Homo sapiens: one gene and its partner. The protein of the gene in region 2 interacts with the protein of the main gene of each other region in a pairwise test. Each region holds a gene or a part of one and is shown on either strand. Other genes may lie near its edges.

The links.
Region 1: the proteins of TSPAN18 (region 2) and OLFM4 interact in a two-hybrid assay, tested with the Homo sapiens proteins (one large-scale study listed by BioGRID).

Annotation. Positions count from the first base shown.
Region 1 is NC_000013.11:53,031,569-53,035,385, reverse strand, and holds part of OLFM4 (olfactomedin-4 precursor), read right to left. Parts: intron 1,039-3,817; coding exon 886-1,038; intron 1-885. UniProt on the Homo sapiens protein: May promote proliferation of pancreatic cancer cells by favoring the transition from the S to G2/M phase. In myeloid leukemic cell lines, inhibits cell growth and induces cell differentiation and apoptosis.
Region 2 is NC_000011.10:44,729,686-44,733,502, reverse strand, and holds part of TSPAN18 (tetraspanin-18), read right to left. Parts: intron 1-3,817. UniProt on the Homo sapiens protein: Plays a role in the cell surface localization of ORAI1 and may participate in the regulation of Ca(2+) signaling and the VWF release in response to inflammatory stimuli.

The DNA of each region.
Region 1 (3,817 bases), on a different chromosome or scaffold from region 2:
ATGCCTGTCTCAGGGTATCTCATGTACCCCATTAATACATACACCTACTATACACCAAAAAAAAATAAGATTAAAAATAAAGAGACTACAACCTTGGATTTCACTTGGAGAAAATAGAAAAAAATAAAAGAGACTACAACTTATTGTCACAAAAAAAGAGAGTGAGGGGGAGAGAGAAGGAAGTGAGCAATTTGTAAAGATAAAAAAGGGTTAAAGGAAAGAGAGAGGGAGGGAGGAGGATGAGAGGGAGAGGATTTGAAGGAGTGGAAGTGGAGGAAGGGAAAAGAAGGAGGGAAAAAAAGATCATCTAAAAGTAAGAAAATACCCAAAAATGTCCCCCCCAAAAAAGAATTAACCAGGAAAGGAAAAGAGAGATTAGAAGGGATGAATAAGGGCAAGGATTGAGGCAAGAGAAATAAGAAACTAAAGGATGCAGGAATGGAATAGAAATAGAAGAAAAGGAAAAAGAGAAGGGAGATAGAATAGAACTAAAGGGGATAGAGGAGAAGAAAGAAAAGAAAGCAAAGCTTGAGGAAAGACCTAGAAGACCAAAAGGAAGAAGCAGCGTCAAAACAAAATAAAAATTGCAGGTTGGGGTTTGCAAGGAGAGCTCAAGGCTTCTTTCCAACTGCCTAAGTACCACAATACTATAGTGAGTTTATCCACGGCGTGAACAATTTGAACCCCACTTTCTTCCTGTGCTCTCATTTTCCCTGCCTTAATAAGAACTCCATTGGTGTCCTATAAAATAAATACTAAAATCACCATAGAATAAAAACGTGATGTCTTTGATAGTGAAGAATGATTGCTTATAAAATCCTAAATTAAAACACATTTTGTTTTGTTTCTCTTTATCAAGATATTGTTTGAAAAGAAAATGCTTACTTTGGAAAGTTCTTTCTCAAACTTCTGAGAAAGAACATGAGCTGTGAATTCCAAGCGTTCCACTCTGTCCACGGGAAAGGTGGTGTCTGGCAGGGAAACAGAGCACTGGCAGGTCCCACGGTCATCCACGGAGCCGGTGAAATTGGAAAACAACTGCAAATAATAACAAGTTGAACATCAATAACAAGCTGGAATCTGAGCTTTTGGCAACTGGAGTGACAGAAATTGGCTTGTCGAGAGTACTTACAGGCAAGTAAGTGGAGTCCAATACATAAATGAATAGAATCATAGAAACAAGCTAAAACAGCTTTGTTTTCACAGGTGGGGACCACCCAGCGTTTAGCCACATCGCCACTGGTTGTACGAAAACCACTACGCCAGCAGACTTTACCTAAAGGAAGATTCCCCATTCTCGAGGCTTTTTTTTTTTTTTTTTTTTTTTTTGAGACGGAGTCTCACTCTGTCGCCCAGGCTGGAGTGCAGTGGCGCGATCTCGGCTCACTGCAAGCTCCGGCTCCCGGGTTTACTCTATGCTCCTGCCTCAGCCTCCCAAGTAGCTGGGACTACAGCCCGCCACCACGCCTGGCTAATTTTTTGTATTTTCAGTAGAGACGGAGTTTCACCGTGTTAGCCAGGGTGGTCTCGATCTCCTGACCTCGTGATCCACCCACCTCGGCCTCCCAAAGTGCTGGGATTACAGGCGTGAGCCACCGCGCCCGGCCATTCTGGAGTCTTAAAGGAGATTATTCCTATCTCTATGCAAGGAAAGGGAAATAAAGAAGCTATGAGAGTGCTAAGTTTGAATTTCAATTCTAGCACTTGCTAGATGTGAAATCTCCTTAATTCTTAGTTCCTTCATCTGTAAAATAGAGATAACCTACTTCACAGGGTTGTCCTCAGTATTAACGAAGTAATGTGAGCCAAGTCCCTGGCACAGAGTAGGTGATCTGAAAATGTCACATTCTCTTTCCTTCTACTGCTCATTTTCTCTTCCTCACCTTCACCCCAACCCAATCCAATTCCTTTTCATCAGAATGAGGGAATCACCAAAGATGTGGGCTACAGTGAAAATATATGATGCAAATTCATATCCTCTCATCGCCTGGGAAATTGCAAATTAACATCCTTCAAAATGGGAACCAGCCATTTGTTAGAAAGTGAATAGCGTATGAGCTTGAAGGTTTTGTGCAATTTTTTTTAATAAAAGTTTTTTTCCAGCTTACCATTTGCAGAAAAAGTCATTTTAAAATATTTTATGTTCATTTAAGATATTCAGACTCACACTTCAGTGCCACCGCATATTTTTAAATGACACTTTTGAAAGATCCTGTTTTTCTTTTGTCCCCTTTGAACTTCCCCAAGAGGATCCCAGCACAATTAACATTTTTTTATTACTACTATTGCCTTACAGAGTAACCCTTGGCAGCCAATTTGCTGTGCCTTTTAATGATCTCATCTGAAAGCCAACCCAAAGCTCACCTGTGGAACATCAGCCTGAAGGGACTTTTTATGAAACCTCTAAGGAGACAGCAATGGTCTTCAGAGCCAGAAGTGACTCTGGCCATGTCTCTCAAAGTTCAGGTCAGCCAGCTGCAGGTGGTGTAATGGGTCCTGTGCATTTAATGGCCACCAACCTCCATAATGCCTGATCAAGCTGGGTCTAGATGCTTCTATAATGAAGACTTATTTTATCACTGGCCTCGGGGCCAATCAAGGCTTTTGCATCTAAGTTGTTTTTAATTTAATTTAAGTTTCAAGATGAGCAGAAAAAAAAAATATGTGTGTGTATCCAATCATATTTTTTATGTGTTTAGTCAAAATTTATTACCTTGGTCTCAATTTTCTTTTCCAATCACATCCCTACGTGGGAAACAGTTCAGGAGTAGGGAGGAGAAACAAGCAGATTTATGTCGAACATAGGGGTGGACAGCAGGGTTTGAATAGGGGAAGGGTCTTTGCCAGAGATGAATAAAGACTCGGTAAGATACACCAGGAACCTATCAGAGAGGCCAGCTTCCCTTGAAACCAGCTTTACTCATTTCTCCAAAGATAGAAAGACTCCAACTCAAGCATGCCAAGGCTTTTACAGAAAAGACCGACATATCAAGGACTTTTGAAGAAATAGCTTATTATAATAACAGTCTAGCAAAAAAAAAATCTTGCATTGCATTTTAACAAGGGGAGTTTAATTAGCTGCACAAACAGGGTTGGGCCATTCTCAGAGTTCTCTGAAAAATTCTGCCAACTCAGAAAACAGTGGATATCATCAAGCAATCTCTAGACAGTCAATTAGGAACCACTAGCTAACAACTTTTAGTCCTGAAGTTCACTTGAAAGACAGACAAGTAATTATGAGCCCTGCTGTCAGCCATTCCATCGGTTTCTATTGAACATCTCTGTCCCAAAGCTGTGGACTCCCCCAGCTTCCATCCTGCTTATCATCAGCCCAGCATGCTCAGCTGACATCAAAATGGTCCATAAGTTTGATCAGTGTCTCCCATTAGAGATATTTCTGCTCCTCGCATTCAAAGACAATGAAGCTAATGGTGATGAGTCTCTCTCTGCGGTGAATGCCCAAACTCTACATGAATGAAGCATGGGGGATGGGAGACAAAGACAAGAGCTTGTCCCCTTGGCCTTTGGAAGAATATGCGATTCCCCTTCTGTAGGGCAAATAGGACCCTGAGTACCTCACAAGACACCTTATATTGGTAGGTTTTCCCTAAGCACGTGTTCAATTAACATTTACTGATGTCTACACTATGCCAGGTTCTGGCTTTAGGGAGATGATTAAGACTCAATTTCTGCCCAGGAATCAGGCCCACTGTCACTCTGAAAGCCCTACTTGTTTTTTCAAACCAGCCTTGTAGCCTGATGACAAGAAAACACGTGACTCGTTGCAGTTCCAACTATACCAGTTACTCTGTGGAGT
Region 2 (3,817 bases):
GCAGTAAATTTCAGTAAGCCAAAGGAAGTCATGGGAGAACTGGGCTGAAGATCCAGGGCCTGGCTTATAGTGCCCTTGCCATGCGTGGACTCACCTCCCTCTGGTATGTTATAGGCACAATATGATCTGCCCAGAAATAATCTCAATAGACACAGTCTGTAATCTACAAAGAGCAATGTACATCGGGGATTATTAGGGAAAGGAAGCTTCTATGTGTTAACAACCAGCAACATACCAGCTCTATACTAGAAGCTTTAAATGCATCATCTCAATTGATCCTTAAAGCACTCTACTAGGGTAAATGTAAATGCAGAGACTTAGTGCTCATCAAATATCCATGTACTTCCTTACATTCTCAGCCTCCCTGGGGGCTGGTTTGGGGCCAGATGACAGTTCTGACCAAGGTGCTGGAGGTGAAGTGATGTGTGTCACCTCCTGGCCAAAGCAGTTGAGTATTAGTGTGGCTTTCCCTTCTCCCTCTTCCCCATCTGCAGTAACTTTGGATGCCACATGCTTTAGAAGGGGCAGTTACAAAGATGGTGGAGTCATCATCTTTGGAGCCTGGGTCCCTGAGTGACCGTGTGGAACAGAGACCCATATTAGACAAGTAATGTGATCAGGAGTTAATCATTTTGTTAAGCCACTGAGATTTTAGAGTCATCTGTGGTTGCTGTTATTCTGATTTTCACAGATAAGGAAGCCAAGGCCACACAGCCAGTAAATTGCAGAATCGGGATTCAAATTTCAGATCTGTGACTCCAATATGCATCCTCTTTCCATTACAACCTTTTGTTGCTTAATAAGATCATTCCCCGCTCTAACCCCTCCATAAGCAGCCATGTCCCAAAAAACTCTTACTCATCACTGTCCCCAAAATGCCTGAGTAATCCATGCAGGACAGAAACGGAATCTCATAAGGTGCCCTGAGCCTGCGAGATTATCAAAGGTGGGGAGGAGGGGGCTTGATTCAGTCTAAGAGATATCATTCCTGGGGCTTTTCGGCTCACAGGAGGTTTTGATACATGAGGAAATATAACACAGTGGTTTAGCACACAGGATAAGAGAATCAGATCAACCGAGGATCAAATCTCAATCCCACCACTTACTCTGAATTCTTCCTGAGCCTTCACTCTCTAATCTACAGAATGGGGGCAGTATCCAAACCATCCTTGTAGGCGGAGACAGGATGAAGTATTGTCAAGCACCTGGCGGGCGGCAGCATTCCCCAAGTGTCTGCCCCATGATAATCATCTCTGGGATATCTCAGAGCAGCAGCCTTGCTGGAACAAGATGAGGCAGAGGCCCAGCCTGGCCTGGCCCCTCCCAAGCCGCTGGAAGAGGCTGCCCCGGCCAGCATGGCCAATAAGGTCCAAAGCTTTAGACCACGGACCGGGCCCAGCCCACGTCCTTGGAGCAGACCATGGGCAGAACACAAAAAGGGATTCAGGGCCAGCCAGACATAAAGCAACACAACAGAAGAACCAGATTATTTATCTTAAAGTCGAAAGTGTCTTCTAGGAAGATGGCTTTTTATTTGGGTGACTCTGGGAGAGGCTGATCAGCTTAAACACATTATCTGCACATATGGTTTTCATACCATGGTGAAGGGTGGGAAACAAAGGGTGGAAGGGAAAGGACAGGCAAATGCTAGCTGATGAAATATCATCCCTCAACTGCCAGGAGCCAGGATATTGTCAGTGACGTCAAATTGGGCTTCTTGCCATGGGGACGGGGCTACCATGAGCCTAGTCACAACATTCAGGAGTCCCTCAATGAGGCAGAGAAAGGAAGAAAAGAACCAAAAAAGCAACTTATTCACCCTTACCTTCTACCCCAAAGACAGATTTTCTCTCTCTCTCTCTCTCTCTCACACACACACACACACACACACACACACACACACACAATCCAGGCCCCAGAAAACTAGAAAGGACCAAAGTTAATCCCTCCCATTTTACAATAATAGTAATAATGATAATCATGACAATGATGATGATAGTGAACACTTATTGAGCACTTACTATATGCCAGGCATTATGCTAAATGTTTTACTAGTTTTATCTCAAAGACTATCCACAACAATCTGATGGGGTATTACTAGTTCCATTTTACAAATCAGGAAATGGAGGCACCAGGGGTTGAATGGTCTAAGGTCACACAATTGATATGAAGTTATGATAAAGCTAACAGGCAAATCCAGGCAGTTTAACCACCACGCACTGCTGCCTCTAAAGAAATAGAGAAACCGAGGCTCAGAGAGAGGCTGTGACTCACACAAGGCCACATCGCTCCATCTGTAACAGTATCAGGGCTGGAACACCAGTCTCCTAATGCCTAGTTCAGCTACCTTTCTGCTCCATCCTGTTGCCTTTTGTACACACTTGCCCACCACCAGTGAACATGTTTTTGCTCATCTCCAAGTTGTTGAATTCACTAATTAAGCCAGCAGTCTTGGGTGCAGACCAGGGGCAAGAGCTGAATCTTAAGACAACAAGTACCCAGATGAAAGACCAGCCCTGCCAGCTGCAAACACAGGCTCACCATCTTACTCTCCCATTCTTTATAAAAAGTGTTTCAAAAGCCAAGTGCAGTGGCTCACGCCTGTAATCTCAGCACTTTGGGAGGCCGAGGCAGGTGAATCACGAGGTCAGGAGTTTGCGACCAGCCTGACCAACATGGTGAAACCCGTCTCTACTAAAAATTCAAAAAAAATTAGCCAGGTGTGGTGGCACACACCTGTAATCCCAGCTACTTGGGAGGCTGAGGCAGGAGAATCGCTTGAACTCGGGAGGCAGAGGTTGCAGTGAGCCAAGATCGCACCACTGCACTCCAGCCTGGGCGACAGAGCAAGACTGTCTCTCAAAAAAAAAAAAAAAAAGTGTTTCATGATCCACCCCCACTCCCTCAGATGGAGCACTAATGCAGGTCCAAGGTGCCAGCCCGGGTGGCAGGAGGAGCCCAAGCTGGTACATTTGCTCAATGGCATCAGGTGGTAGAAACGCCTGATCAATGGGCGTCATCTGCTCAGTGGGACCAGAGTGCTGGTTTCCAAGGCCCCCTCCCTGTGCTGCACCCCAGCTGAGCATGAACAAATGTTCCTGATTTTCCCTCTCAATGGCTGATGAAATAGACCAGAAAAGCAGCCCTCTGGAAAGGGAGAGGTCCCTAAAACCTGCACCCCAGGAACTGAAAGGGCTCTTCCCAAGAAGAGTGGGGAGCGAGCCTGCAGACTAACATGGGGCTCCCAGCAGGGACTGGTTACAGACATTCCCCTCTCTACCCAAAACTGCTGGGCACTTTGTCCTTCAGCTCTGATGGCAGGAGCTGGTTTCTGAAGCTGCTGCATTCACTCAACGCAGGATTTTGCTGTGTACAGGCGGGCAGAGAGAGGCAAGCCAGCCCGGAGAGGCACCTTCCACTGAATGGAAGGCAGAAGGAATGGAGCAGGGCTGCCCAGCCCCCTAAAAGGTTAGACTCTCCTGCTCTAAGTTGCAAGATAGCTCAGAATCTCCTCAGCCAACATATTCATTTTACAGACGGAGGAAGCAGGCTCAAGAGGGGAAATAACCTGCCCAAGGCCACACGGATGACTCAGAAGAGCTAGATTTCAAATCTGCTATTTTCCCTCTTCCTGGCACCCCCTCCCACACATCCTTGAATTAATCCTGTGTCCCTACCCAGCACCCTGCCCTCCAACACACCCCTCAGACCATTAAAATCTCATTTTTTAAAGGGCAGAGGGTTCCTTCCTGGACTCAGCCCAAGGTGTCCTAAACCCAACCCCAAGGTATCCTAAACCCAACTAACTTCGGCTTCT